4 linked regions of the Homo sapiens genome follow. The protein of the gene in region 1 interacts with the protein of each later gene in a pairwise test. Each region holds a gene or a part of one and is shown on either strand. Other genes may lie near its edges. The genes, in order: ZP3, SPACA3, OR2L13 and CLDN11.

The links.
Region 2: the proteins of ZP3 (region 1) and SPACA3 interact in a two-hybrid assay, tested with the Homo sapiens proteins (one study listed by BioGRID and IntAct).
Region 3: the proteins of ZP3 (region 1) and OR2L13 interact in a two-hybrid assay, tested with the Homo sapiens proteins (one study listed by BioGRID).
Region 4: the proteins of ZP3 (region 1) and CLDN11 interact in binary tests that used the Homo sapiens proteins (3 or more experiments, as listed by UniProt).

The regions. Positions count from the first base shown.
Region 1 is NC_000007.14:76,420,052-76,429,065, reverse strand, and holds the start of ZP3 (zona pellucida sperm-binding protein 3 isoform 1 precursor), read right to left. Parts: upstream 4,117-9,014; 5' UTR 4,102-4,116; coding exon 3,790-4,101; intron 1-3,789. UniProt on the Homo sapiens protein: Component of the zona pellucida, an extracellular matrix surrounding oocytes which mediates sperm binding, induction of the acrosome reaction and prevents post-fertilization polyspermy.
Region 2 is NC_000017.11:32,987,035-32,995,543, reverse strand, and holds the start of SPACA3 (sperm acrosome membrane-associated protein 3), read right to left. Parts: upstream 3,698-8,509; 5' UTR 3,606-3,697; coding exon 3,572-3,605; intron 2,694-3,571; exon of another isoform or gene 2,539-2,693; intron 136-2,538; coding exon 1-135. UniProt on the Homo sapiens protein: Sperm surface membrane protein that may be involved in sperm-egg plasma membrane adhesion and fusion during fertilization.
Region 3 is NC_000001.11:248,097,704-248,102,887, reverse strand, and holds the end of OR2L13 (olfactory receptor 2L13), read right to left. Parts: intron 4,238-5,184; 5' UTR 4,113-4,237; intron 3,531-4,112; 5' UTR 3,513-3,530; coding exon 2,574-3,512; 3' UTR 1,725-2,573; downstream 1-1,724. UniProt on the Homo sapiens protein: Odorant receptor.
Region 4 is NC_000003.12:170,427,887-170,435,914, reverse strand, and holds the end of CLDN11 (claudin-11), read right to left. Parts: intron 3,392-8,028; coding exon 3,159-3,391; 3' UTR 1,224-3,158; downstream 1-1,223. UniProt on the Homo sapiens protein: Plays a major role in tight junction-specific obliteration of the intercellular space, through calcium-independent cell-adhesion activity.

The sequences.
Region 1 (9,014 bases):
TCCTCTTTCAGGAGAGGCCCAGGGCCAAGATAGCCGCCAGGAAGCAGTCAGGAAGTGCCCAGCTGTTAACACTTATCAGCTTCTGGCTGGGCGCTGTGGCTCACGCCCGTAATCCCAGCACTTTGGGAGGCTGAGGAGGGCAGATCATCTGAGGTCAGGAGTTTGAGACCAGCCTGACCAACATGGTGAAACCCCATCTCTACTTAAAAAAAAAAAATTAGCTGAGTGTGGTGGCACGTGCCTGTAATCCCAGCTACTCGGGAGACTGAGGCAGAAGAATCGCTTGAACCCGGGAGGCAGAGGTTGCAGTGAGCGGAGATCGTGCCATTGCATTCTAGCCTGGGCAACAAGAGCAAAACTCTCAAAAACAAAAACAAACAAAAAACACAACAACCCACATCAGCTTCTAACCTATTCAAGCCCATTTCACATAAGGTGGGGGAGACTGATTCAGAGGTTGCCTGAGGCAGGAAGAGCACAGGTGAGTACTACTGGGGAAATTTGCATCGTCCAATAGGGCTGCAGAAGGCAGGGCCTGCCTGGGAGAGAGTTTTATAGCAAACACCTAAGTTCGAAGATTTTGCTAGAATATTAGAAAAATGTGACGCTAGGCCCTACCCCAGTAGAGTGAAGGTATGAGATTCTCTTGAGAATCAGTATTTTTACAACCTTTCCAGGTGATTAGCATAGAGCCAGCACTGGAAACCCCTACTTTAGTCACTTCCTAACCACCTTTTGTTTTTTTGAGATGCAGTCTTGCTCTGTCACCCAGGCTGGAGTGCAGTGGCACGAACTCGGCTCACTGCAACCTCCGCCTCCCAGGTTCAAGCAATTCTCTGCTTCAGCCTCTGAGTAGCTGGAATTACAGGCACGTGCCACCGTGCCTTTTTTTTTTTTTTTTAAATAGAGACAGGGTTTCGCCATGTTAGCCAGGCTGGTCTCGAACTCCTGGCCTCAGGTGATCCACCTGCCTCAGCCTCCCAAAGTGCTGGATTACAGGTGTGAGCCACCATGACTCAACCCCCAACCACCTATTCTAAGCTCACTATCCCCACCTCTCATCTCAGGGAGCTTATTTAAAAACTACTTGAGGGCTGGGTGCAGTGGCTCATGCCTGTAATCCCAGCACTTTGGGAGGGAAGAGGATTGCTTGAGGCCAGGAAGTCACGACCAGCCTGGGCAATAGAGCTAGACCCCATCTCTACAAAAACATAACTTGGCTGGGCACGGTGGCATGTGCCTGTAGTCCATCCCAGCTATTCAGGAGGCTGAGGCAGGAGGATGGCTTGAGCCTAGGAGGTCGAAGTTGCCCAAGAGCTCAGGTGGCTGCCTGGCCCTGACCAAACTCGATCTTCAGGGAATAGTCCTAGACCTTATTAGCAAGTGCCCCAGCACAGACAGAACCAGCATAGCTCGTGGGGCCCCTTATTCAAAAGTTATTACCATTTCAGGGCAAGAGGGCATTCCATTAAGCACTGGGCCCCACAGAACTGCACAGGTTGTATACCTGGGAAACTGGCCATGGCTGTATTTTTTTTTTTTTTTTTTTTGAGACGGAGTCTCACTCTGTTGCCCAGGCTGGAGTGCAGTGGCACGATCTCAACTCACTGCAACCTACGCCTCCCGGGTTCAAGCAATTCTCTGCCTCAGACTCCTGAGTAGCTGGGATTACAGGTGCCCGCCACCACACCCGGCTAACTTCTTTGTATTTTTAGTAGAGATGAGGTTTCACCATCGTGGCCAGGCTGGTCTTGAACTCCTGACCTCGTGATTCACCCGCCTCGGCCTCCCAAAGTGCTGGGATTACAGGCGTGAGCCACTGCGCACGGCCAGCCGCAGGTGATTCTCACCGGGCAAAACTGGGAAACACCACACCAGAGGAAGGAGTTTGCAGGCTTTGCTCCTCATTGGAGTCACCTGAGATCCTTATTACCCACAGCTGGTCCCACATCCTTTCTATTTTAGCAGCCTGGACATCAGGATTTTTAGAAGCTCCACAGGTGGGGTTAATAAAAGAGGGTCTTGCTCTGCCTTCCAGGCTGGAATGCAGTGGCACAATCGTAGCTCACTGCAGCCTCCAAATCATGGGTTTAAGCAATCCTCCCACTTCAGCCTCCCAAGTAGCTGAGACTAAAGGCAGGCGCCACCACACCCTATTGTGTGTGTGTGTGTGTGTGTGTGTGTGTGTGTGGTGTTTGGTAGAGAAGGGGGTCTCATTATGTTGCCCAGGGTGGCCTTAAACTCCCGGGCCCAAGTGATCCTCCCATCTCAGCCTCCCAAAGTGCTGGGATTATAGGCGCCATTGCACTCCAGCCTGGGCAATAAGAGCAAAACTGTCTCAAAAAACAAAAACAACAACAAAAAAATACCACTTATCAGCTTCTAACCTATTAAAGCCCATTTCACAGAAGGGGGGGGAGCCAGGCACCTGGCTCCCCAAGTAAATCTAAGACATGTTTGTGAGCCTCTAAACTGGAATAATTCCTCAAGTAACTCCTGCAGCTCTCTGGCCTCCCTCCCCAGGAAAACAAGGGCCTCGAGTCCTCAAAGAGAGCCCAGGAGACCACAGTTAAGACCAGAGCTCTGGCCGGAGGGCTCCAGGGGCTGGACTTGCCCCCATCCCAGGCAAGCTACTGGGTCTAGGCCCAGGTGAGGAGGAGCCAGGTTCCCCTGAGGCGGGAGAGGACAGGCCCTCCATGGGACCACAGGAACTTGGTCCAGGGATCAGGGTTTAGCTGGGGAGCTGTGTGCCCAGCCCTGCCCTGCCGTAAGGCCTCTCCTTGCAGCCTCTTTCCCCACTGGCTAGGGAAAGGGAGGTCTGGCCTGGATTTCTTGGTCTTTTCCTGCATGTACCACAGGTTAAGCCTCTCCCCCTTGGAGCTGCCCCCAGGGACCCACTGATGCTTTTAAGGTCTTTAACACCAAGGTTATGATGCCCCCGCCCCCATACCACTTATCTATGTGGAATTTTTTTTTTTTTTTTGAGCCAGAGTCTCGCTCTGTTGCCTAGGCTGGAGTGCAGTGGCACAATCTCAGCTCACTGCAACCTTTGCCTCCTGGGTTCAAGCGATTCTCCTGCCTCAGCCTCCTGAGTAGCTGGGATTACAGACACGCACCACCATGCCTGGCTAATTTTTGTATTATTAGTAGAGATGGGGTTTCACCATGTTGGCCAGGCTGGTCTCAAACTCCTCAGCCTCCCAAAGTGCTGGAATTACAGGCGTGAGCCACCACACCAGGCCCCAGTTAGTTTTTTTAAAGGCTTAAGAGATGGGGTCTCACTATGTTGCCCAGGCTGGCCTCAAACTCCTGGCCTCAAGTGATCCTCCAGTCTTGGCCTCCCATAGTGCTGGGACTACAGGCATGAGCCACTGCACCCGGCCCACTTGTTGTTTTTAAGATAATGTATACTTTGGGTCTCTTCAGGATGAGTTCCTAATGCCCCCAGCCTTAGAAACAGCCCCTTAGGCTACCCACAGGGCTATCCTATCACGCAGGCCTGTGTGTGTCACAAACCCACCTGAGAGAGAGTGGCGTGGCTTGGGCCAGCCTGAAGTGCACGGCCACCTCTGGCTCCACCCCATCGACCCAATGTCGGGCATCAGAGGCAGGAGCTGCCCTGGGTCCGGTGACCTCAGTGCCAGCTTCAGGCCTCAACTGGGCCACCTCCCCACCTACAAGTGAGAGGGATCCACCCAACCCCACCTCCCACCGATGGTGGCCACAGTCCCCATACCCGGCTGCCTCGAACATCCTCCCACCAAAGCCAGGGCCCCCAGCCTCTCTTACCTGCATGCTGTTGCCACACTCGTGGAGTCCAACCTCAAACCTGACCACATCTTCTGTGTCCATGGAGACCAGAGGCTCACAGGCCTCTGGGCCCAAGGTGAGGTCAGCAGCCCTGATGAGCTTCCCGGTGCCAAAAAGGTCTTTGCTGACCATGACCATCAGAGTGGCCTCCTGACACTCCACCAGTACGGGCTGTACGGACGTCTCAGGATGGCTGGCTCCACCCTGCAAGAGCCAGAGGGGTTGGGGGTAGCACAGCTCAGTACTACCCCAGAGCAGGAGGCAGATGAAGAGCCTATAGCTCAGCTCCATGGTACCTGCAGAGCAGCAGGCAGCCGCCTCTGGCCATCTTATACCCGTGGGATGCTGGCTGCTGCCACCTGGGCTCTCAGCTTCTCAGCTGCCTCCCTTCCCTAGCCAGCTGGGCCCTTGTTGCATAAAGTGGTCTCCATCCAGAAGCATCAGTAACACCTGGGAGCTTGTTAGAACTGCAAACTCTCAGCCTTCACCCCAGCATGACCACAGCAGAATTTGGTTTTTAGCTTGGAAATCCCCCACGTGTATCCACATTAAAGTTTTTTTTTGCTGTGTGTGTGTGTGTTTGTGGTTTGTTTGTTTTTGTTGTGTTTTGTTTTGTTTTGAGACAGAGTCTCACTCTGTTGTCCAGGCTGGAGTGCAGTGGTATGATCTCGTTTCACTGCATCCTCCACTTCTCAGCCAGGTTCAAGTGATTCTCCTGCCTCAGACTCCCAAATAGCTGGGATTACAGGAAGGCATGCGCCACCGCGCCTGGCTAATTTTTGTATTTTTGGTAGAGACAGGGTTTCACTATGTTGGGCAGGCTGGTCTTGAAGTCCTGACCTCCAGTGATCCTCCTGCCTCAGCCTCCCAAAGTGCTGGGATGACAGGTGTGAGCCACCGCGCCCGCCCCAGCCCACTTGAAAGTTTTTAGCTTGTAAATCCCCATGTGTATTCATGTAAAAGTTTGCAAAGAGTGTGCTGCCTGCCTGGTGCACCACAATGTATCACAGCTTCCCTCCGATCCCCTGCTGGCCCTGCCCTTAGGAAGCTCGCAGCCCGGCAAGGGAGCTGTCCCAGGTCTGTGGGGGACACAGGAGAAAGCCCTTGATTGAAGAGTCAGGGGGATTAGATCTGAGACATAAGGAGCTCATTCCAAGTGTGAGAAAAAGGAGGCGGTATCAATTAGGAGACAGGAGGAATTTCATGGGTCTCTGCCTTATTTTATGGGAGGCCGGGGGGTAGGTCAGTTCAGGCAGAGGCAGCTGTGTGAAGAGAGGTGGAGAAGGGGCCCTGCGTTCTTCATTCCTGGGTGAATCCCCCGGAGTTCATACTGAGACACAGCAGAAGCGGGGCTTGGCTTCAGCTCACCCCGACCAGGGCATTCTTTTTTTTTTTTGAGACAATCTCACTCTGTTGCCCAGGCTGGAGTGTAGTGGTGCAATCTCAGCTCACTGCAGCCTCCGCCTCCCAGGTTCAAGCAATTCTTCTGCCTTACTCTCCCGAGTAACTGGGATTACAGGCTTGTTCCACCATGCCCAGCTCCTCACCACAAGGGATCCGCCCACCTCAGTCTCCCAAAGTGCTGGGATTACAGACATGAGCCACCACACCTGGCCCAACCACTGCATTCTTTCCTGCATTCCCAGTGATCACCAGACCCATACCACGATTTCACTGACATCATCATGTGGAAACATGCCTATTACTTAAGAGAATCCCAGGAACTGACCTTAGGAGATTCAAATATCAAACCAAGGTTGTGGAGTGTCCCACCTCAGGAAGGAATGCTGAACTGATTGACAGCCTTGTTGCCACCAGCCAGACTACCAGGTGGCCCATAACTCAAGATAACCATGGCAACCAGATAATGCCAACCTGCATACCTTCACGTGCTTTGCCCAGCACAGCCGGCATGCCCTATCCCTGATGTAAATTCCCATGCTTTGCCTAATAAAAAAGCCCTCCTGGCTCTTTTTGGAGAGTCAGATAGAAAAATCTCTATATCTTTCCCTCTCTCTCTCTCTTTCCCTCTCTCTCTCTCTTTCCCTCTCTCTCCCTCTCTCTTTCCCTCTCTCTCCCTCTCTCTCTCATGCTGCCTCCTTTATGTCTGGGCATAAGCTCCAATGAAGCTTTGTCTAGGAAAACTCGTTTAGCCTCCTGTCAATTTCTTTTCTTTCTTTCTTTCTTTCTTTCTTTCTTTCTTTCTTTCTTTCTTTCTTTCTTTCTTTCTCTCTCTCTCTCTCTCTCTTTCTTTCTTTTGAGACAGGATCTCATTCTGTCGCCCAGGCTGGAGTGCAGTGGTGCTATCTCGACTCACTGCAACCTCCGCCTCCTGGGTTCAAGTGATTCTCCACCTCAGCCTCCCGAGTAGCTGGGATTACAGGCACCCGTCACCATGCCCGGCTAACTTTTGTATTTTTAGTAAAGACGGGGTTTCACCATGTTGGCCAGGCTGGTCTCGAACTCTGGACCTCAAGTGATTCTCCCTCCTCGGCCTCCCAAAGTGCTGGGATTACAGGTGTGAGCCACTGTGCCTGGCCCTCATGTTAATTTCTTTTCTTTCTTTTTTTTTTTTTTGAGACGGAATCTTGCTCTGTCGCCCAGGCTGGAGTGCAGTGGCGCGATCTCAGCTCACTGCAACCTCCTCCTCCTGGATTCAAGCAATTCTCCTCCCTCAGCCTCCTGAGTAGCTGGGATTACAGGCGCCTGCCACCAAGCCCAGCTACTTTTTGTATTTTTAGTAAAGACAGGGTTCCACCATGTTGGTCAGGCTGGTCTGGAACTCCTGACCTCAGGTGATCCGCCTGCCTCAGCCTCCCAAAGTGCTGGGATTATAGGCGTGAGCCACCGCGCCTGGCCACCTCATGTCAATTTCTATTGCACTGAGGGCCTGAGGACCCATGGTTGGGGTAGGTAACCTGGTGAAGCCTCAGGTCCCTGGGAGTGAGAGTAGCAATTTAGGAGGCCGGGGAGGTGGGCGGGGCAGAACCCTGTGGGTGCCAGGCTGAGATGCTGGACTTAGCCCTGTGGGAAAAAGAGGCCATGAAAGGAATAGTATTGGCCGGGCGTAGTGGCTCATGTCTGTAATCCCAGCATTTTGGGAGGCCGAGGTGGGCGGATCACCTGAGGTCAGGAGATCGAGACCAGCCTAAGCCAATATGGAGAAACCCCGTCTCTACTAAAAATACAAAATTAGCCTGGTGTGGTGGCACATGCCTGTAATCCCAGCTACTTGGGAGGCTGAGGCGGGAGAATCGCTTGAACCCAGGAGGTGGAGGTTGTAGTGAGCCAAGATCACGCCGCTGTACTCCAGCCTGGGTAACAGAGCAACACTCTGTCTCAAAACAAAACAACAACAACAAAAGTCTACTGCAAGGGTCCTATCAGGAGATGATGAAGGACTGACAGGTACAGCATTTACCAATGGCCTACTCTATGCTGTCCCTGGGTGAAATTCCTGCAAGAGAGGAGGAAGAATACAAAAACTAATGGCATTAGCTGGGCATGGTGGCTCATGCCTGTAGTCCCAGCTACTCAGGAGGCTGAGGTGGGAGAATTGCTTAAACCTGGGAAGCAGATGTTGCAGTGAGCCGAGATTGCGCCACTGCACTCCAGCCTGGGCGAGACTCCATCTCAAAAAAAAAAAAAATTATACATATATATGTGTGTGTATATATATATAATTTTAAAAAATTAAAAATCTGCCAGGCATAATGGCTCACATCTGTAATCTCAGCACTTTGGGAGGCTAAGGTGGGAGGATTGCTTGAGCCCAGGAGTTCGAGACCAGCCTGGACAATACAGTGAGGCCCCATCTCTACAAAATCAAAGAAATTAGTCAGGCATGTTGGCACACACCTGTAGTCCTAGCTACTTGGGAAGCTGTAGTCCTAGCTACTTGGGAACCTAGCTACTTGGGTTGCTTGAGCCTGGGAGTTCTAAGCTTCAGTGAGTCATGATCATGCTACTGCATTCCAGCCTGGGCAATAGAGTGAGACCTCATCTCAAAAAAATGTGGAAATGGCGGGGCGCAGTGGCTCACGCCTGTCATCCCAGCACTTTGGGAGGCTGAGACGAGCAGATCACGAGGTCAGGAGTTTAAGACCAGCCTGGCCAATATGGTGAAACCCCATCTCTACTAAAAATACAAAAAATTAGCTGACGTGGTGGCACACGCCTATAATCCCAGCTACTCAGGAGGCTGAGGCAAGAGAATCACTTGAACCTGGGAGGTGGAGGTTGCAGTGAGCTGAGATTGTGCCACTGCTCTCCAGCTTGGGTGACAGACTGAGACTTAGTCTCACTAAAAAAAAAAAAAAGTGGAGACACACACACACACACACACACACGTGGAAATATATATGTATGTGTATATATATGTTATATATAGACATAAATATAAAGAGATACAGGGAGAGAGGGAGGATATGTATCAATCTTTATATTGGCTGAACCTGGGTAAAAGGTAAACAGGTTTCTTAGTGTTATCTGTGCAACTTTCATCAGTTTAATTTCAAAATAAAAAGTAAAACAAAAAATAACCAAAAACATAAAAAACTCTCTGTGTCAGATTCAAGTGAGACAGAAGACGATGCTGTTAACCAAGTTCCAAAAGCAATTGCTAAAACAAAATATGAAGTTCCTAGGTATAAAACAGACAAAAAAAGATATGTAAGATCTTTGAGGAAAAATTAACAAAACTGTATTGGCAGTCAGAGTAAAGAATGTCTAAATTTACAGAGGTATTCCATGTTCATGGATGGGAAATGCAATATCATCACTATTTCAATTCTCCCAAAATTAATCTGTAATTTCTATCAAGATCCCAACATGTTTTAGCTGTATGTGGGCAGAGCTTAGTAAACTGATTCTAAAATTTATATGGAAGAGCTAAGGATCAAAAAGCCAAGGTTTTTGCAGAAAAAGAACATCTGGTGTGAGTGTGGTGGCTCACACCTATAATCCCAGCACACGATTTTGGGAGGCCGAAGCAGGAGGATTTCTTGAGGCCAGGAGTTTGGGAACAGCTGGGCAACATAGTGAGACTTTATCTCTATGAAGAAGAAGGAGGAGGTGGAGGAGGAGGGAAGAAGAGGAAGAGGAATAGGAAGGGGAAGAGGAAGGGGAGGAGGGGGAGGAGGAAGAGAAAGAAGAGGCTGGGTGTGGTGGCTAATGCCTGTAATCCCAGCACTTTGGGAGGCCGA
Region 2 (8,509 bases), on another chromosome or scaffold:
TCCTGGCTTCTATGCCGGCGGCAGAGGTGGAGCCACCACCACTCTGGCTCAGAGCTGAGCTTTGGGATGACAGGCAGCTCACCAGCCTCCGTGGTCCACTCACAGAAGGAGAAGAAACAGGGCTTGAGTGCACCCCTGGGAAAGGGGAGAGGAGAGAAGGGGTGGGCAGAAGGCCAGGCTCCAGCAGCACGTATCAGCCCCCTTGCATTCCTGATCAGCATCACCCTGACCCCGAGACCAGCCCCTCTCCTTCCCCATCCTGCTTCACACCACCCAGGCCAGAGACAGGAAGAAAACTAACCTATTGTAAGCTCCATATTACACGTTACGGATTATTTAGTCCTGAGGCCCAAGATTTTATAACTAGGAAGGGGCGAAGTTTGGATGGAGACAAAGTTCTATAAATCCAAAGCCCCACTGAGCAGATGCTCCCGGAGGGGATGGCCAGGCGGTGTGTTCATGGGTCTCTCAGCCCAACTGTCAAGGGACAGCCCTTCTGGCATTGACCCTCCATCTCCAGATCTTAACTGAAACAAGGTCTCCCCCAGAACACTGCTCCCCTATAGCCCGCTCAAGGGGAAGCTGCTCTTTCTCCACACACAAGACCCCAAGATGTCCCGAGAGTCTCCTCCACCCCCACCACCACTTCTAAACCATAACCTGCAAAAAGCCCTTCTCCCTGGAAGCCCAGCCTGCCCGTCTGGTTTGACCTCCCTGCCCTGTCATCATTGGCTGTGTGTGGCCAGTCCCCCAAATCACAGAGGACATTAGCACCTGGGTGTCACAGCATCAGGGCTCCTTCATCTCCCCAGACCTAGTCCCCTCCAGTTCCTCTGTGTCTCAGCCAGTCCCTCCCCTGCCCTGGTCATCCCTGCTTCTTGTCCTCACCCGCATTTCCCCACCTCTGTGAGCTCCTATCCCACTGCCCACCACCTCTGACAAGCCTTCCCATGCTTCTCTTGACCTCTGCGCCTCCACACCTGCTCTCCACCTTCACAGAGTCAAAAAGTGAAAGAGTTGTACAAACTCTTGTTTGTGCCAATTGGTGTCCCTGGTCTCCAACCTCCACGGGACCTTGAATGCCCCCGAGGATGACAAAGTGGTTGAGGTCATGGCTTTGCAGCAAGGTTCGGGTTGGAAGCCCCCCTCTGCTCCTTGCTCCATCTCTGATTTTGGGCCCTCCCTGAGGCTTGTTTCTTCCTCTATAAAATGAGGACGTGAGTAACACCTGCCTCATATGATTGTTGGAAGAATAAATGAGAAAAGGCGTGGGCACAGCGTAGCTCTTGGCACTAAAAATAAGTGAGTTGTTGTTTCTGTTATGAACTACAACTAACACTGGTACTCGCGCTTGTCTCTGCTCAGACTTCTCTCTCCCATTTCCCTCACAGGAAATGAAAACCCTCAGTATTGTCCTTTAGCACGCCACGCTGTCCCACCCCTTGGCTCTCAGAACATGATCTCGTCTCCTGCTGCACTAAGAAAAGCAAGGTGCTCACTTGTGGAATTTCTTCCTCTTTCTGCCTTAGCCCTGCTCACTTGCAAACTCATCAGTAGCCTCCTCGCCCTCATCTCCACCCCGTCATTGTTTGGGTACGGGGCCTCCAATCTCATGCAGGCCCATCTTCCCTCTAAGCTCTAGATTTGTCCTTCCCATCACCAAGCCTTGCTCCATCCGTTGTCCCTCCTCTCCCGGCGCGCTAGCACCGTTCCCCTCCTGCTCCTCCTTCCCCTGCTCGTAGAGACTTTCTCAGTCTCCATCTTCTAAATGCCTTCCCTCAAGTCTCATGCTGACTGCTACTCCCTTGTCTCTTTCCCCCTCTTCTCGCCCAAACTCCTGGGGAAAATCGCCACTTTCTCCCTCCCGCTTGTTTTCCAACCTGGTGAATTGGCCTCCCTGCCATCACCGCGCGCTGAAACTGCTCTGCGGGTCCAAGGAGGCCCCCTTCGACTCTGTCTCATGGGAGCTCTCAGCTGTACTCATGCCGTCCGCCACCCGCTGTTGAAAGGCTTGCCTCTCCTGGTTTCCACGATGCTCCCTTCTCCCAGGTTTCCTCCTCCCTCTCTGGCTGACTCTCCTCCTTATCCTCCGTGGAATTCACTTCTGCCCAGGCCATAAACGCTGATATGCTTTCTAAGGCCTTCCTGCCTTGAGCCCTCTTCTCTTCCACTTTGAGGAAACCCCCTGGGCAGCCCTGCTGTTAGCCACCGCCTGAAGGCTGGCAACCCCTGTGGCATCTTCCCCAAGACCTCAGAGGCAGCTACTGGCAGGACACTTCCACTTGAATGCCCTGCAGGCACCTCAAACCCAGCACATCTAAACAGAACCACTGTTTCCATCAATGCCTTCTTCTGCCTTGTGACTTTCCTTATGTGCTTTAAAACATGATGGGCCACACATTTACCCAAACTGGAAATATGAATGTCATTCTTCACTCCTTCCCCATGACATCTTTCACCCAGTTCCAACCAATCAGTCCCAATGTCCTGTGGATTCCACCTTCCCTCCGAGAGCACCGTCCTTTCCTAGGTTCACACCTCCATCCTGGCTTCCTTCATGGTCTTCTTGTATCATGTCTCAACCACTCTTCCAAGCTATTCTATACACATCCATCAGAACAAATTTGTTAAATGAAAAGCCCAGCCCTGTGACACCTTGGATGGCTCCCACCATAACTGCCCCTTCGAGGTCCACACGGCCCTTCACGACCCTTCACAGCCCAGCCCTGCGGCCCACTCCCTCATTCACACGTTATGTTTCAGCAGTGCCACCTTGTTCTCTCACAATGACCTTGCTTTCTAGAACATTCACCCTCTCCTTTCCTCTACATGGTTAACTCTGACTCATACTTGAAGGGTCTTATCAGAGGTGTGTTCCCCAGTGAGAGTCTCCTGGCATGCCACCACCCCCCACACTCTCACACACCCGATCTTCCACATCCTCTGTCACACGAGGCTGGAATAGATGTCAGTCTTTCCCACCACAAAGTTAACTTCTGAAGAACGGCGGCTGGTCTTATTTATCTGCATGTCTTATTTATCTGCAGAGTTGCTGGCATGGAGTAGCTGCTCTGTGGCTGCTTCTGAAACTCAAGTCCACAAAAGGCGTGGCCACAGGGACATGAGACCTTCTTCTCACCGCGAGGGGAGTGAGAAGGAGGAGGCAGCCAACCTGGTGGAGTTTGTCAAGTCTTTGAACACTGTGCCAGGCCTTTCCCAGAGCTTTTCCAACTTAATCTCATCCAATCCTCTCAGCAATTGAAAGGTGTGGGGTTAATATCCCTAAGTTGTAGAGGAGGAAACTAAATTGACTGCTACACATGGACTGTTTTTGATTTTTTTTTTTTTTTTTTTTTTGTAGAAAAGTGACTTAAAAGGAATTCCATCCTGAGCATTTCACAACAGCTCCAGAGTTTCTCTCTCTCTCTCTCTCTCCTCTCTCAGCTGGTCACTCTTCCAGGCCAGGATAACCCCACCCTAACCACCACCTTGTTTTTCTCCACCTGGTCTCTGGCCAGACCAACCCAGCGCCCCTGTTAACAGCCCCAGGAAGAAGGGAAAGGGGGCTCACTGATCAGGGGTGCTCCCCGCAGAGCTGAGACCATGGTGACAATGGCAGCAGCAGCAGTGGCTCAAAACCCTGCTTCAGCTCAAGATGTCCCCCACAACCTTGCCAGGGCCCCAGGCACCCAGTGTTAAGAGAACAATGGGGAAGGCAGGCTCCAGGCCAACGGAGGGCCTTCTAGAACTCCAGCTCTGTGAGCTCATCTTCCACAAACAGCGCCACCACAGAGCTTTGACTAGCCCACCTGAGCCCTTCCACTCAGGGTCCAGAGGCAGAGCAGGATATCTAATCCCAGCCCCCTTGCACATCTCTGCCCCACACACACACACACATACACACATGCGCGCGCGCACACACACACACACACACACACACACACACACACTACACTGAGGGATGACACTTCCTCTCCCAACAGATCTTTCAGATGATTATCCAGGGATAATGGTAGACACCTAGGGATGGTGATGGATGTACAGAGATGGTGATGGGTACCCAGGGATGTTAACAGGTGTGCAAGGACAGTGGTGCGTGTGCAAGGATGGTAGTGGGTGCCCAGAGATGGTGGTGTGTGTGCAGGGATGGTAGTGGGTGCACGGGGATGATGGTGGGTGCCCAGGGATGGTGATAGATGTGCAGGGATGGTGGTTGGTGCCCAGAAATAGTGGTGGATATGCAGGCATTGTGGTGGGTGCCCAGGGACAGTGGTGGGTGTGCAAGAACAGTGGTGGATGTGCAAGGATGGTAGTGGGTGCCCAGGGATGGTGGCAGATATGCAGTGATGGTGGTAGGTGCCCAGGCACAGTGGTGGGTGTGCAGGGACAGTAGTGGGTGCCCAGGGATGGCAGTGGGTGCCCCAGGATGGTGGTGGGTGTGCAGGGATGTTGGTGGGTGCCCAGGCACAGTGATGGGTGTGCATGGATGGAAGTGGGTGCCCAAGGATGGTAGCAGGTGCCCCAGGATGGTGGTGCATGTGCAGGGATGGTGGTGGGTGTTCAGAGACAGTGGTGGATGTGCAGGGATGGTAGTGTTGGGTGCCCAGGGATGGTGGTGGATGTTCAGGAATGGCGGTGGGTGCGCAGAGGCAGAGGTGAGTGTGTAGGATGGTGGTCAGTGTGCAGGTACGGTGGTAAGTGTGCAAGGATAGTGGTAGATTCCCAGAGATGGTGATGTGTGCCCAAGGATTGTGAGGGATGTGCAGGGATGGGGGTAGGTGCCCAGGGATGGTGGTGGGTTCCTAGGGATGGTGGTGGTTGCCCTCTGCTTTTCCAGGCTGCCCATCTCACCATGAAGCTCCTTTGAGTGCCAGAAAGTTCTTCCTTAATGCTGAGCCACAAGCCACTCCCTTCTCCACCTGGATGATGGCCATTCAGTGTGGACAGGTGCAGGGCAAAGGTTACCCTATTGACCCTAAAACTTAAAGGACAGAGAATTGGAAGGAAAGGGCATGTGGTGCCCACGTCTGTGTCCCACAGGAGCCTGAGTCCCACAGCACAGCAGCTAGAGCATAGGCTTTGGGGTCAGGCTGACCAGGGCTGAACACAGGCGCTAGTGACTTCCAGGTGGATGACCTAGAGAAAACAGCCTCACTTTCTGATTCCTTGATTCTCAAGCGGGGATGACAACACCAACCTCACAGGGTACTAGGAAGGCTCAATGAAACAGCAACAAAGTGCTTAGTACCCCAGGTGCTCAATAAATAATAGTAATTACTACTAAGTGCAGAGCACAGCCATAAAAGTGTCTGGTTGCACCATGTCCACCCTATCTGTCTGGGCCCCACCCCAGGACAACCAAGTTAAAATTGAGGGATGGCCCAGCATCAGCACCAGTATTTTTTTCTTTCATTTTTTTATTGAGGTAAGAACACTTAGTAGGAGATCTACCCTCTTAACATATATTTAATATGCAATCCATTATTGTTGACTGTAGAGGACACTGCTGTACAGCAGCTCTCTTGAGCTCATTCATCTTGCCTGACTGGATTTTCTTTTTTTTCTTTTTTTCTTTTCTTTTTTTTTTTTTGTTTTTTGTTTTTTGTTTTTTGAGATGGAGTTTCACTCTTTTGCCAGGGCTAGAGTGAAGTGGCATGATCTCGGCTCACTACAACCTCTGCCCCCTGCGTTCAAGCTATTCTCCTGCCTCAGCCTCCCAAGTAGCTGGGATTACAGGCATGCACCACCACGCCTGGCTAATCTTTGTATTTTTAGTAGAGACAGGGTTTCACCATGTTGGCCAGGCTGGTCTCGAACTCCTGACCTCAGGTGATCCACCTGCCTTGGCCTCCCAAAGTGCTGGGGTTACAGGCGTGAGCCACCACACCCAGCCACCTGACTGGATCTTTATGCTCATTGATTAGTAACTCCCTGTTTTCTCCTCCTGCCAGCCCCTGGTGACCACCATTCCTCTCTTTGATTCCATGAATTTGACTATTCTAGGTACCTGATAAAAGTAGAATTATTTCCTTTTCTGTAACTGGCATATTTCACTTTGCATATTGTCCTTAAATCTCATCCATATTGTTGCATATGTCAGAAATTTCTTCTTTTTTAAGCCTGAATAGTATTCCACTTTGTGTGTATACCACATTTTCTTTATCCATTCATCTGTGTGTGTTAGCTCATTTTGCATTGCCATAAAGGAACATCTGAGGCTGGGGAACTTAATAAAGAAAAGAAGTTTATTTGGCTCACAGTTCTGTAGGCTGTACAGGAAATATGGTGCCAGCATCTGCTGGGCTTCTGCGAGGCCTCAAGAAGGTTTTACTCATGGTGGAAGGTGAAGGGGGAGCAAGCATGTCACATGGCAGGAGAGGGAGCAAGAGAGATGGAAGGAGATGCCAGGTTCTTTTAAACAACCAGCTCTTGCATGAACTAATAGGATGAGAGCTCACTCATTGCCACAAGGCCAGCACAAAGCCATTTATGAGGGATCCACCACCATGACCCAAACACCTCCCAATAGGACCCACCTCCAACACTGGAGATCACATTTCAACATGAGATTTGGAGGAGACACATGTCCAAACCATATCACAGTGGATGGACACATGTTTCCACCTCTTGGCTTTTGTGAACAATGCTGCAATGAACATGTGATATTGTTTGGCTCTGTGTCCCCACCCAAATCTCAACTTGAATTGCAATCCCCATGTGTCAAAGGAGGAAGTTTTAATTCCCACGTGTCAAGGGAGGGAGGGGATTGGACCATGGGAGGGTTTCCCCCATGCTGGTTTCATGATAGTGAGTGAGTTCTCATGAGATCTAATGGTTTTCTAAGCATCTGACATTTCTACCGCTTGCACTTCTCTCATTTGCCACCTTGTAAAACGTGCCTGCTTCCCCTTCAGCCATGATTGTAAGTTTCCTGAGCCACCTCCACCAGCCATGTGGAACTGTGAGTTAATTAAATCTCTTTCCTTTATAAATTACCCAGTTTTGGGTATTTCTTTATAGCAGTGTGAAAATGGACTAATACAGTAAATTGGTACCAATGTAGTGGGGCACTGCTATAAAGATAACTTGAAAATGTGAAAGCAATTTTGGAACTGAGTAACAGGCAGAGGTTGGAACAGGTTGGAGGGCTCAGAAGAAGACAGGAAGATGTGGGAAAGTTTGGAACTTCCTAAAGATTTGTTGAATGGTTTTGGCCAAAATGCTGATAGTGATATGGACAATGAAGCCCAGGCTCAGGCGGTCACAGATAGAGATGAGGAGCTTATTGGGAACTGGAGCAAAGGTCACTATTGCTATGCTTTAGCAAAGAGACTGGTGCCATTTTGACCATGCCCTGGAGATCTGTGGAACTTTGAACTTGAGAGAGATGATTTAGGGTATCTGGCAGAAGAAATTTCTAAGCAGCAAAGCATTCAAGAAGTGACCTGGGTGCTCTCAAAAGCATTTAGTTATACGCATTCACAAAGACATGGTTTGGAATTTTAACTTATGTTTAAAAGGGAAGCAGAGCATAAAGGTTTGGAAAATTTGCAGCCTGACCACGTGGTAGAAAAGAAAAACCCAGTTTCTGAGGAAGAATTCAAATGAGCTGCAGAAATTTGCATAAGTAACCAGGAACCAAATGTTAGTAGCCAAGACAATGGGAAAAATGTCTCCAAGGCATGTTAGAGATCTTCAAGCCAGCTCCTCTCATCATAGGCCTGGAGTCCTAGGAGGAAAAAATAATTTTATGGGCAAGGCCCAGCACCCTGCTGCTTTGTGCAGCCTTGGCACTTGGTGCCCTGCATCCCAGCCACTCCAGCTCCAGCCAGAGCTAAAAGGGGCCATGGCTTCAGAGGGTACAAACTCCAAGCCTTGGTGGCTTCCACGTGGTGTTGGGCCTGCAGGTGCACAGAAGTCAAGAATTGAGGTTTGGAAACCTCCACTACATTTCAGAGGATGTATGAAAACACCTGGATGTGCAGGCAGAAACCTGCTGCAGGGGTGGAGCCCTCATGGAGAACCTCTGCTAGGGCAGTGTGGAAGGGAAATGTGGGGTTAGAGCCCCCACACAGAGTCCCCACTGGGGCACTGCCTAGTGGAGCTATGAGAAGAGGGTCACTGTTCTCCAGACCCCAGAATGGTAGATCCACTGAAAGCTTGCACTGTGCAACTAGAAAAGCCACAGACACTCAATGCCAGCTGGTGAAAGCAGCCGAGAGGGAGGCTCCACCCTGCAAAACCACAGGGGCAGAGCTGCCCAAGACCATGGGAACCCACCTCTTGCATCAGCATGACCTTGATGTGACACATAAAGTCAAAGGAGATTTTGGAGCTTTGAGATTTAATGACTGACCAGCTGGGTTTTGGACTTGCATAGGGCCTGTAGCCCATGTGTTTTGGCCAATTTCTCCCATTTGGAATGGAAACATTTACCCAATGCCTGTACCCCCATTGTATTTACTGTTTTAGCCCATTTTCACACTGCTATAAAGAAATACCTGAGACT
Region 3 (5,184 bases), on another chromosome or scaffold:
AAATGCCTTGTCTTGCAGAAAATCTGGAGGCTATTTTTTTTAGCTTGCTGTTTTCCTTTCACAACTGTGGTTTGTTGTTTTTGTACAAAGATTGATCAATGTGTTTAATTTCTGCAGAATATACTAGGACATATTATACTTTATACTAAATAAGGATTTACTGCATTGGTGATTGTTTAACATCAAAGTAACGGTAGAATCTCCAAAAAAAATCAAAACCAAACCACAAAAATTAATTTTAGTGGTCATACTCAGAGCAGAAAAAATTATACATTTTTTTTAATTCAAGGAGAAAACCCTGATACTAGTGGAAAAAATGAGTGAGATACATCGCAGACTGAGGAATCTGCCTCCCGGAATGAGCGACAACCCATTTGAAGAAGTAAAAGGAAATTCTAAGTAATGATCTGTTAACTACTATCTGCTTATATTTTCCCCTGGATCTGTAATGTGGCATGAACACTAGTTCCTTAAACTTGCATTGCATACCAATAAACATAAATAAATTACCACAAAAAAATGTCCCCATCATTGCATGCCATAGCACTCCATTCTGTGGGGACCTCCAGGCCAAAATGATGAGGGTCTTGTTCAGAGACTGGGTGACATGAATCAAAGCCTGATTCAAAGAAAACTGGCTTCTAAGTTGTGTTCTTCCCTTCCCAGCTCTCTGACCTAAGACATTTTTCTTGTTTGTTTGTTTTGCCTCACCAAGCCTCAAAGTGCTCACTCAACATGGAATAAATATCGGAATCATAGTGTTGTAGTGCAGGTTAAGTTATGTATGTGGGAAAAGCATTTACAATTAGTAAATATTTGTTAGCCTTATAATCCTAATTATTATAATTTTTAAAATATTCTATGAGCTTCAATTTAAAATAAGACAGACATAGATGTGAATAAGTGTTAATAAAATGTGATCATAAGCAGGAGTAGAAGTGTGGGGGAAAGAGATATCAGCTGTGCACAAGAAGAGATGGGATGTCAATTTTGAGTTATGTTTACTGATTATGTGGGATTCAGATTGATAGTCATAAGCTATGTAAATCAGAACTTTCCAGAAGTGAGACATGGTCTGTGATAAGGTTCAGATGGGCAAGGAAATAGAGGGCTATGGAGAAAGGCAGGAGGTCTAGAGTGACTGTGGTACTGAGTGTAAGTGATAGAAACAGGTAAAGGGAGACATAATGCATGCTTTAAAAGCATGGGGATATAAGTTTCATGTTCCAAAATTTAGATAATCCAACAGGAATCATAGATTATAGAATGACAAGATCAAATGTATGTTTAGGGAAATAACTCAAATGGCAATGAGTACACTATATTCTCAGTAAGAACTGGACTCAAGAGATGAAAACACTTAAGGCAGTAAGAAACTAGAAAAAGATATTGGGAGCTTGAATTTGGGCAGTAAATAAAAGGGATATATTAATACAAGTCTCAATTTTTTTTCCACAAAAATCAGAACCCCTCTATAACTCCAACTATTGATAGACTTGAAGTCACTTAAGTGAATTAGTAAAACAACCATAGTAAAACTTTTGTTAAACACAACTTTCCATATAGCAACATAGGATTTCATCCTGTGCAAAGTCATATACATATTTTACACATCAAAGCTGAAGCCTGAGGTCCCAGTTTCCGTTTTATATTTTGCATGCTGTCTCTACCCTGTCACTGTCTCTGTGCCTTTATATAAATAATTTCTTTAAGTACAACTTTGATAAAGTTATTTATATAAAGATTTTATTAATTTTTATGTATACATAAATGTGGGTTCTTTTATATTCATATTCAAGTTATTTTATCTCAGTATCTTTATGAAATCAGCAAAATCATAAGTCAGATAAGCTCTCCCTGAATAGTTTTATTAAAGGAGTTAGGATAAACTGGACTTCAAATGTTAATTACAATAAATGTGCATATGCTAAAAATGAGCCAACAGATAAAGAAACACATAAACACTACCTTAGCATGTGCATTTTACTTGTTAATTTTCAGTTCATCAGCAATATTGTATATAACAAAAATATGTTTGTATACACCATACATGCACATACACATGCATATATAACTTCTGAAACTATTGATTGGGGATGCTCTAAGAATGTGCTGTCCAACACTATAGACACTGACTACTGGGCACTTGAAATGTGTTTTGTCCAAGCTGCGCTGCACTCTATAAAACAAACACAAGACTTTGAAGACTTAGAATGCAAACAGAGTAAAAGGCAACATTAACAAATTTGTGTTATTACATGAAGAAATTCTATGTCAATATACAAGAATAAACATTATCACGTTAATAGTAATATATGTACAAACATGTACTATAATATATTGCATATAATTTATTGAAATAGTATGCTATGTAATTAACATCAATATTGTTAATATTAATATTAATTATAACATTGTTTTGAATTAAATATATTATTTAAATTTATTTGACTGCTTAAATGTACCTATTAGAAAATTTTAAATTATGTTGTATTTCTATTGGACAACCCTGCTCTAGCGTGTTGGAATCAACTTGGAAAGAGGAAATACAAAGGGAGTGGGGATGGCCATGATTATTCTTTCAGGAAAGAGAATATCCCAAACACTCTCCTCATAGCCCCCAGGACTTCCTTATTCCTCAGGCTGTAGATAATGGGATTGAGCATGGGGGTAAGGATGGTGTAGAAGACTGCCAGGATCTTGTCTTCAGCTGGTGAGCGGAGATTCCTGGGCCGAAGATAGGTGTAGACAAAAGGTGCATAGTAAAAGATCACTACAGTTAAATGTGTTGAAATGGTGGTGAAGGCCTTTTTTCTCCCCTCCTTTGAGTGCATATGATAGACAGCAAATAGGACTCGGCCACAGGAAGAAGTGATGCCAATGAAAGGGAAAAGGAGAAAGAGGCTTGTACTTACAAAAACCATATATTCATAGACCCAAGTATCTGTACAGGCAAGAAGCAACATGGCTGGGACATCGCAGAAGAAATGGTCAATAGCCCTAGACCTGCAGTAGGGAATATGAAGGGCAAAGACTGTGTGTGCCAAGGAGTTGATGGACCCCAGTGTCCAAGAGCCTCCAATCATCTTCACACACATCATTTTACTCATGCGGATAGGATAATAGAGAGAGTGGCAGATGGCCAAATAACGGTCGTAGGCCATGGAGGTCAGGAGTAAGCCTTCAGAACACGCCATGGTCAGGAAGAAGAAGCTTTGCACACCACATCCCAGGAAGGAGATGCCTTTCTGGCCGGACAGGAAGTTGTACGCCATCTTGGGGACGGTGGTGGAGATGTACATCAGGTCCATAAGGGAGAGCTGGCTGAGAAGAAAGTACATCGGTGTGTGGAGACGAGGATCCACGTGGATGAGGTGAATCATGGCCGAGTTACCCACCGAGGCCAGAAAGAATATGAGGATGATAAGGCACAAGAGAAATATTCCAGTTTGATTTGGGGGAAGCAGACCCAACAAAATGAAATCATTTGAAGTGTGATTCCATTTCTCCATGAAAACTTTCTGCTGTAACTGTTGAAAGAGAAATAGAAACAAAAGCAAAGCACAAAACATGAAATAAAACACAATAGAAAAACAAAAAGGAACTGACTTTATCAATGTTTGTTTAGAATGAGTTGTTTCTCCACTAACACTGCAGGTTTTTTTTAATCAATTTCTATATCTGAAGCATATGGAGATTAGAGAGGATATTCACTTTCTGTTCTTATAGTTTGATTTTCATTACTGTAGATGACAGCAGAGTCAAGCAGCTACAAATCTATTCAACTGGAAAAGCCAGTGTGAGCAGTAGAACAATTGTAATTTATGGCTTAAGCATGTCTTCCAATTTAATTAGATAGAACAACACAATTAAATGTTAATAATTGAGAATAAAGAAATCAAGCAAACAAAAATAAATAATTTTCCCTCCCTGGAAAGTTTGTCTAGCTTTTTATGCCTAGGCTTTTCCTTGGGAATTTTTATTTATGACTTTTAGAATCTCTCTTTTTCTCTTTACACCACCCCAAATCTGGCAGTTTGTTTTTTTCTTCATGCAGTTTCCCAGGTATTCGTAAACTATATTTCTAACATCTGTGTGACTTCTTCCTTTACCTGGGCTTGGAGTGAGAGGTCATGTTTTGTGTGTGCTCTTCTGTCTGAGGCAGACACTGATGTCTCATCCTGCCCAGCATATTGATTTGGTTAGTCATCTTGGGTTACTGATTTTTCAACTTTTGCTGTTCAAAAGCAAATCATAGTTTGTTGCAATTATTCACATTTAGGAACTTAAACTCAACTGTTAGTTCATATAACCTTGGGTAGCATGAATACAATTGTGAAAGAGAGCCTGCCACAGGAAAAAAAATGGAAATTCATTTCTATAGCTGTCTAAGGAATAAACACTAACAATGAAAAGTTGGGAACATGACAGGTGCACAGTAGCATTGGACTTGGATGCCAAATGGGATCACAGGCACTCTCTGCTTCTTATAGTGCTTTAGAAATAAAAACTGATCAGAAAAAAACATGAAAACCATCATTATGATACATTCATTTCCTCAAATAGTGTTCACTGAATTTATGTTTTATGACAGTGCTGCTAGCTACTGATGTGCTTTGGTGATGAAACACAAAGGATTTTAGAATATGTAATTAAAATTGAGATAATTATACAAACAATAGACCAACAAACTCAAACATACAGTGATGTTATGTAGTGATTACGATTCTATAGAAAAATAAAAAAGCAGAGAGATCATTGGATTAAACAAAGGAATTCAAAAAGTATTCCAAACGACTTTTCTAATTTCCAGGGTATGTATGATAAAGATTGATTTTGTAACTCATGTGGCTTCATTCTATCAGTAAGAACTATCCTAGTAATTTAGTTCCAAGCAAATATTTGATTAATTTTATCAGATTAACATGTTGACAGCCTTTGATGCAGTAGTCACTGAGTGAGGCAGTGGGGATAGAATGATTCATCAGGTGCTGTCCCATCCCCAAGTGGGCGACCAACTGTCCTGATGTGCCCAGGCCTTAGGGGATGCCCAACATGTCCTGGAAATTGGAAAAGCCTTTTGTAGTGCTTTCTGAATTCCTTTGTTTAATCCAGGTTTAAATCCAGGGGAAGAAAGCTGCCAGCATGATCCCATGAGGTGTATCCAATACCGAGCCCTGAACA
Region 4 (8,028 bases), on another chromosome or scaffold:
CAGAACCTGTTGTTCCACAGTTGTGCTGTCCAATCCAAAAGCCTCCAGCCACATGTGGCTACTGAACACTTGAAATGTGGCTGGTGTAAATGGAAATGTGCTGCAAGTGTAAAATACACGCTCTTCCAAAGACAATACAAAAACAAGGGCGTGAAATATCTCATCAATTGATTACATATTGAAATGATAATATTTTGGATGTACTGGATCAAATAAAATAAATTAATTTCACTTGTTTATTTTTAGCTTTTGAAATGTGGCTACTGGAAAATTTTAAACAGCTCACATCGTATTCCTAGTGGACAGTACTGTTCTAGAGGCACATCAACCTCTCCTCCATCAAACTGATACTAAACCTAACACTAGAGTTATGACCTCCAAATTGGGATTCCCTCATTAGTCAGGGAATGGTCAGCTAGGAGCGATTTGGGAGTCTCTCTTCTTACACGGAAGGGAAAAGTGGAGCTCATGCAGCAGCCCCCTTATGAGAGAAAACAAGCAGCAGCTCAGGGAAGGAGCGGGCGAGTCAATACATCCATAAGAGAGGAGACCCACTTAATGACACTTCTGACACAAGCTGGTGGTTGTGAGGAAAGGGATCATGGGGTCTGAAGCCTCCTCGTCCACTCCCTCAAACGCTTTTTGCTCCCTTCTGGTTCATAATCGTTATACCTTGACAACTTTTAATGAGGTAGGGAGAGTCCTCCAATGTAGTCACATGACTTTTATCCTTACAAAAGCTATATTATAATAGCTAAGCAAATATTTTAGTTAACATAAAAATTGTCTTCTATGGCCAGGCACGGTGGCTCACGCCTATAATTCCAACACTTCGGAAGGCTGATGCAGGAGGATCACTTGAAGCCAGGAGTTCCAGACCACCCCGGCCAACATGGCAAAACCCTGTCTCCACTAAAAATACAAAAATTAGCCAGGTGTGGTGGCACATACCTGTAGTCCCAGCTACTTGGGAGGCTGAGGCACAAGAATCGCTTGAACCCAAGGGGCGGAGGTTGCAGAGAGCCGAGATCGCACCACTGCTCTCCAGCCTGGGCAACAGACCGAGACTTCTTCTCAAAAAAACAAACAAAAAAAAGATTATCTTTTATGTATAAGTAATTTAGAAATGCTCTCCAACAGGTTATAATCAAAACTACACAAATTTCTGCAAAATGGCTAGCCCAAATTGGTATTTCCAAAGAGGAAATGTTTGCCAATTACTATACTATCAGCTAATGAAATTAGTATTTTATTTGAAAGAAGTCTGCCAAAATAGATTGCAATGTGTTTTCTTAGACCAGGCCCGTAACTTGATGAAGTTTCTGGAACAGAAAAACAAATAAAAATCAACTCAATGTGTCTTTGTCCAAAATGTCCAAACAGCTACATATGTATGTTTGAACGAAATGTATTTAGATATTATTACTTAAAGATCCAATAAAATAGGTTTCGTTAATTCTCTTTTTATACCTAGCCAATCAATTCCTTTACTAAGTGTTAGAAGTAGATGAAGGACATTAACTGCATAATGCTGAGAACTTTGTTTCTGATTGCTGCCCATTGATCGATGATTAAAGATGCCATAAAGTCACCCCACTTAAGAAACCTAGAGAGCACTGAGGTTATGCTTTCATGACCACAAATTACCACTGCAATACCGTGAATAAAATATAACTTTTTAATTATTCAAGGCAATGCAGAATTACTTGTTCTTGAATCACTGATCAGATTCCCTATAAATTACCAGTAGAGATTAATGAGATTTTTTTAAATCAATAATGATACCTCTGGATACAACAGAAGATTGAAGGCCAGTTTTGCAGACAGTCTGTTATTTTATTGCACAGATTTCACTTCAAGAATAAAATGCACCATCAGTATTTGGAGAGTTTGGGGTCTCAGATACTGATATACCATCAGTGTTTACACCCGTAAAGCCAAATTCAACAGTACAATTTATGTTAAACAACATCACTTCAAGATGGCTAACAATACAAATAGAGAGAAAAGTGGGGGAAAGCTTTAAAAATGTGTTAGTTTGAAGCATATGAAAATGTACGATTAAAAACTACATCATACAAACCTGAAATCAAAAATGTTTTGTGGAACATCAGTTAGAGTTATACTCACTTGCACTGTTATTTATTGCATAAAGTCTATGTGGTTCATTTCCTTCATATTGATGAATTGAGGATTTCAGGAAAACCATGGTTATAAAAATGATCAATCTTGAAAAAGTATGTACAGATAAATGTAAAATCACAAACTAAAAAATATCCCTACCCCTGGCCCTCAACTTACAAAAGGGAAAGTTTCCCATGGAAAGTTCGTTCCACTATTGCCCTCCCTCCCCCATCCCATGTCCCCAATGCTATCTTTTTCTGTCTCGTACAAGTAAATGACCTTGAAGGGAAGAAACAAAAGCCATCTTTATGAGGCTCCCATTGTCATCTGTATCAGTTTGAAAAGCATCTTGGCCGGTGTGGTGGCTCACTCCTATAATCCCAACACTTTGGGAGGCCGAGGCGGGAGGATACTTTGAGTCCAGGAGTTCGAGACCAACCTGGGCAACATAGGGAGCCCTCATCTCTATAAAAAACTTAAAAATTAGCTGGGTGTAGTAGTGAACGCCTGTAGTCCCAGCTACTTGGGAGGCTGAGGCAGGAGGATCACTTGAGCCGGGGAGGTTGAGGCTACATGAGCCGAGATCACACCACCGCACTCCAGCCTGAGCAACAGAGTGAGGCCCTATTTAAAAAAAAAAAAAAAAAAAAAAAAAAAAAAGTATCTTGTATTTCTCTTCCCCACCCCCACCTAACTCAGTGATGTTTGCAAAACATTTGAAATTTAAAGAAACAAAATATATATAATATATTTTTAATAAACAGCAAAAGAATGCCCAAGAAAAGAGCTAATAGGGGCAACACCAAGGGAAAAAAATGTCTGGGCATTATCTGAGCTAGAGATTTCTTTTAAGGCAACCAAAAGATGGGGGAAATGGGGAGAAGTTAAGACTACAAAATGCCAGACAGGATGCTTTTCTAGACCTTTGGCTTTAGAGCCTGGCAGAGGAATGGGCTTCCCCACACTGTGACGAGCAAACCTAGGGCCCTGGGCCCAGCATCTACAGCACCTCTGTGGGCAGCCGGGCAGCCCTCTTATACGTGGGCACTCTTCGCATGAGTCGGGGAGCTAGAGCCCGCAGTGTAGTAGAAACGGTTTTCACCAAAGGCCTGGGCATCTCCAGCGCAGCAGAGGATGACACAGCCACCCACGAGGCACAGCACAGCACCAATCCAGCCTGCATACAGGGAGTAGCCAAAGCTCACGATGGTGGTCTCACGGTGGGCGCACACAGGGAACCAGATGGTGGCAACAAGGGCGCAGAGAGCTGGAGAGACATGGAGAGGCGGTGACTGGGCGCAACCATCACACACCAAGCACTTGGGCAGGCCCACTCACTCCACATACACACACTTGTGGCTTCCAACCAGCTCCAAAAAGCTCCATACACACAGTTCTGCTCCCTCAACACTGAACCAATATGTAGCAGTTGGCATCTGTAGAAGAAGTAGACTGCTGGGTCCTTATTTTTTTCAGCAGGTAACAGAGACAAAACAATTCCAGTGTAAAAACCTAGAAATAAACCATTTAAGTCCAAAAAATATTTATTTGTATTTACTTGTATATCAACACTTCATATCTACAGTTATAATTCTAAAATTAGTATTCTTACTTAATTGTATTATAATTACCCCTTTACATGTCTATGCATCATTCTAAGCTCTGAGTTCTTTGAAGGTAGGGTCCATGTCTTACCTATGTCTACCTTGGTACAAGGCAAATAGTATGTGCTCAATGTAGACCAGTTGAATGGCTGAATGATCTGAGCTATTCAAATATGAGAAACAAGATGGCAGCCACCTCAATTTTCCACTCTATTTTCTCAGTTTGGTCAATTCACATTACAAAGATCTGGAGAAGGTATGAAATTTCTCTTGCTGTGGTGAATGTTGCTAGATGAAAACGGAGTACCAGATAAAGGTTCAAGTTTTTATTACACTGTTCACAATCACAAAATCCCAACACACAAATGAACAGTCCTTGGAGTAGAAAAACTCACCCATTCAAGGGTCAAAATGGTAGAACTTTACTTATGGTCTTGCACCAATCAATCTAATCTTCATTTTGGTTTTGATTTTATAGAGTAAAATAAGAAATAGCTTATATATCATGTAGTTTTTCACCTCTTTATAAGCAAAGTAACAAAACATGGGCAGGCAAGAGGCTATAAAGACTTTTTTTTACTTTTTTCAAATCTCTAGACCAGCACTGTCAAATGGAGTGGCCACAAGTTATGTGGGACCATTGATCATTTGCCATGAGGCTAGTGAGATGAAGAACTGAATTTTGAATTTTCATTAATTTTAATTTAAATGGCCACATGTAGCTAGTGGCTACTGTACCGAACAACACAGCTCTAAACAAAGTAACTCCAAACCTCTTTAAGTTGAGATGGCACATTAAAGTTGGCAGACAGAAAAATAATAATAACAATAATAATAACAATGAGGTTTCCATCAACAAATTCAAGACAGATACTGCACTGCCAGTCTGATGTTTGCCACCAGGGGTACCGTTATCACTTTCAACTCAGCAAGCTTTTTTCTGATTTCTACTCATAGTAAGTGATTTTCTAACTTACTCTCTATGCCCACAGAGAAGAAATATAACTTAACATAAGCAATCAAATCTAACAGCCTTGTATATTAGTTCTAAATGGAAAAAAGATTGGTCTTACCCATTTTGAAAGACCTTTTAAACAATCTCATCGCATTTGTGTTGCTTGTAACATAGATTTTTATTGACAATAGATTAAGCCCACCCCCACAAGCTGGGTATAGATATATGTAGGAAGATATGATTTCTATCCTTAAAAAGAATAGATCTCAAGAGGAAATCAGAAGGAAGAGAGTTAATTTGAAAAGCTATGAATTGCCCAGATTGGCTTTCTAACAGCCCAAATTCACTCCATTAATTATTTATAGATTATCTAAGAAGCTAAAATTGGCCAGGCATGGTGGCTCACACCTTTAATCCCAGCACTTTGGGAGGCCAAGGTGGGCGAATCACCTGAGGTCAGGAGTTCAAGATCAGCCTGGCCAACATGGCAAAACCCCATCTCTACAAAAAAATACAAAAATTAGCCAGGCATGGATGGTGGGTGACTGTAATCCCAGCTACTCAGGAGGCTGAGGCAGGGAGAATTGCTTGAACCCAGAAGGCAGAGGTTGCATGCAGTGAGCGGAGATCTTGCCACTGCACTCCAGCCTGGGCAACAAAGCAAGATTCTGTGTCAAAAAAAAAAAAAGAGAAAAAGAAGAAGCTAAAATCTATCCATATGCTAATGCTTCCTTTTTCTTAAAAAGTAAGCACAGTCATGCCAGCTTCTGTAATATTTTCATATGAGATACCATGAGAAGATGTATTTTCCTTCTGTGACTAGAATGTTCAAGAAAAGCAGTGTGTACGTGAAACCTCCCTTTCTAGCTCAGGACTTTGGAAACCTCAGATGCAGGGGAAAGTCTTTTTCTTTCTCTTCTCTGGCGTGAACTCCAAATCAGGCACTCTTGGAGAATTGCTTGGCTATTATCAGAGTCTCTACTTTCAGCAAGACACAGAGAAAAACCTTTTTCTCTGTCAGCAAAAGGGACTAAAATCCTCTTCTGGAGTGTTTCAGCCAGAGAGAACTACTGTAGATTTTCCGTAGCAATACACAATCTACTTACACAGCCCTAAACCTCAAAAGTGGGCATTCGTTCTGCTGTGGGCAAAAAACAGCAACCTAGCAAAGGCTTCCAAACACCCAGGCTTGTTTAGAGGAAAAAGAAGGGGAGTGAAAAGCTGAATTCTGTAGAGAAAAAAGTTCTAATTCCCAAACAACTGATATGGTTCAATCTAACCGATCTTTCCTATAAACAATTAACTGGTTTCAAAACAACTCAGGGTTCAAATCAAGTTTTATATTTTTCAACTATACTTTGTATTTACACATACAGCACATGTGCACACACATGCAGGAAAGCATTCCCCACATCTATTGTTAACCTAACTTTCACACTGAGATTTTATAGAATAAGACAAGAAACTGCCTCTAAATTCATTTCATTGTTCCCTTAAGCAAATCATAAAACAAGATTATCTTCACACAGGGAAATAACAGACTCAATATCCCAAAAGTAACCATCAGTCTTGGTTTTGAGTATTTTAGGGATTTTGTTAGGTTTTATTCCAATATAAATCATTAGAAAAAGGGAAAAATCAGAAAAAGGTCTAAATATTTCATACAATGAACCTCCATAGGAATGGATGAGTGAACGGGGGAACGAATGGATGGATAGATGAGAAGTAGTCTCATTTCAATTCTACATTTTACTTCATACATACCAAAACTGACACCCAAAGTCATAAAATCTTATTGTGACTTTAACACACTTAAAGTCGCAAGCTCATCACTGACCTCATTAAAGATTTCCTTCTCTTACAATTCACACAAAACAAGGCAAATGAGTGCCAGCAGGCTCTTTACTTCCTAGGAGACAAATGAACCCTGGGTGGAATTCCTGTGGCTCTCAAAGATGAACCACATCAAAACCACTAAAAAATGACAGACTGCCACACAACATGAAAGGAAATGAGAGGCTCACTGAAAACAGTGACCTTCAATTGAACCCAAAATGAGAAATGTTTAAAAACTAAAAAAGGAGAATTTACTCAATTTCAGCAATGGTTTCAAGAGAGAAAGAGATATGTTTTGACCAGTAAAGTTAAAAATTCAAGACAAATCATTACTTAACTTTTAAAAATGTGAAATAGTAATATAACTGGCCAAAAATAATTGCCTTTCTTAAAGACACAGAAGGCCTGATAGTTTTAATTTTATTCGCAAACCCAAAAAGATGAGTTTGGAATGGTTCTCTCTGTTATTTGGGAAAAATAAAGAAAGTGTTTTTCTAGAAAGTCAGTTACCTGTAAGGTCAAGAAAATTGAAGACAGACAAAGGGAATTTTTGTTCTTTTTCTTTTTATATCATCAGAGTTTATTTTTAAATTAAGTCTCTAAAAACAAGACAGAGTAATTTTAGCACTCAGATTTTTCAGTTTTTCTCCTTTTTTACCTTCAGAAGATGCAACAGCTAACTACACAAGGTGGTGGGGGGTACCATTTGTTGTTGGAAAACAGAAAGTAAAACTGAGGTATATTCTTAGCTAAAAATGAGAAGGAGGAGAAGGGGGAAGAGAAGGGAGAGAAAGGGAAGGGAAAAGAAAGCTTCACTATGTAAAGACAGATATATCTAAACCTGGTCCTCTCATAAGCAGAATTCCTTGCTCTTCAAAGAATAAAATTGTTTGCCCCTTTTGAGAACAAGTTTCAAATAATGCAACACAATACATTCTTTAATTGATAAGATATGCCTTGTTAAAAACTAAGAATGATGGTGATGTGACCAAACAGAAAATATTTGAGAAGTCCATTTTAAAGCAATGAAATGTAAGTGTGGCTTTTAATCTCTTTAAAGATGAGATGACACATGGTAACACATGGAGTTAAATAAACATGAAGTTAAATAAAATCAATACAGGTATGTTTGACGTTGGAGGTAACAACTGAGAGAAAGAGAGACAGACAGACAGACAAAGAGGCAGAGAAAGACAAGATCAGTAGACACTGACATTTCTTCCTCCTTCCAATAAATCTTTTTTTTTTTTTTTTTGATAGGATATCTGTCACCCAGGCTGGAGGGCAGTGGTGCAATCTCGACTCACTGCAGACTCATTCTCCCGAGCATCAATCCTCAGCCTCCCAAGTAGCTGGAATCACAGGTGCACACCACCAGGCTGGCCTAACTTTTGTATTTTTAGTAGGGATGGGGTTTTGCCATGTTGGCCAGGCTGGTTTCGAACTCCTGGGCTCAAGCAATCTGCCCGCGTCTGCCTTCCAAAGTGCTAGATTACAGGCGTGAACCAC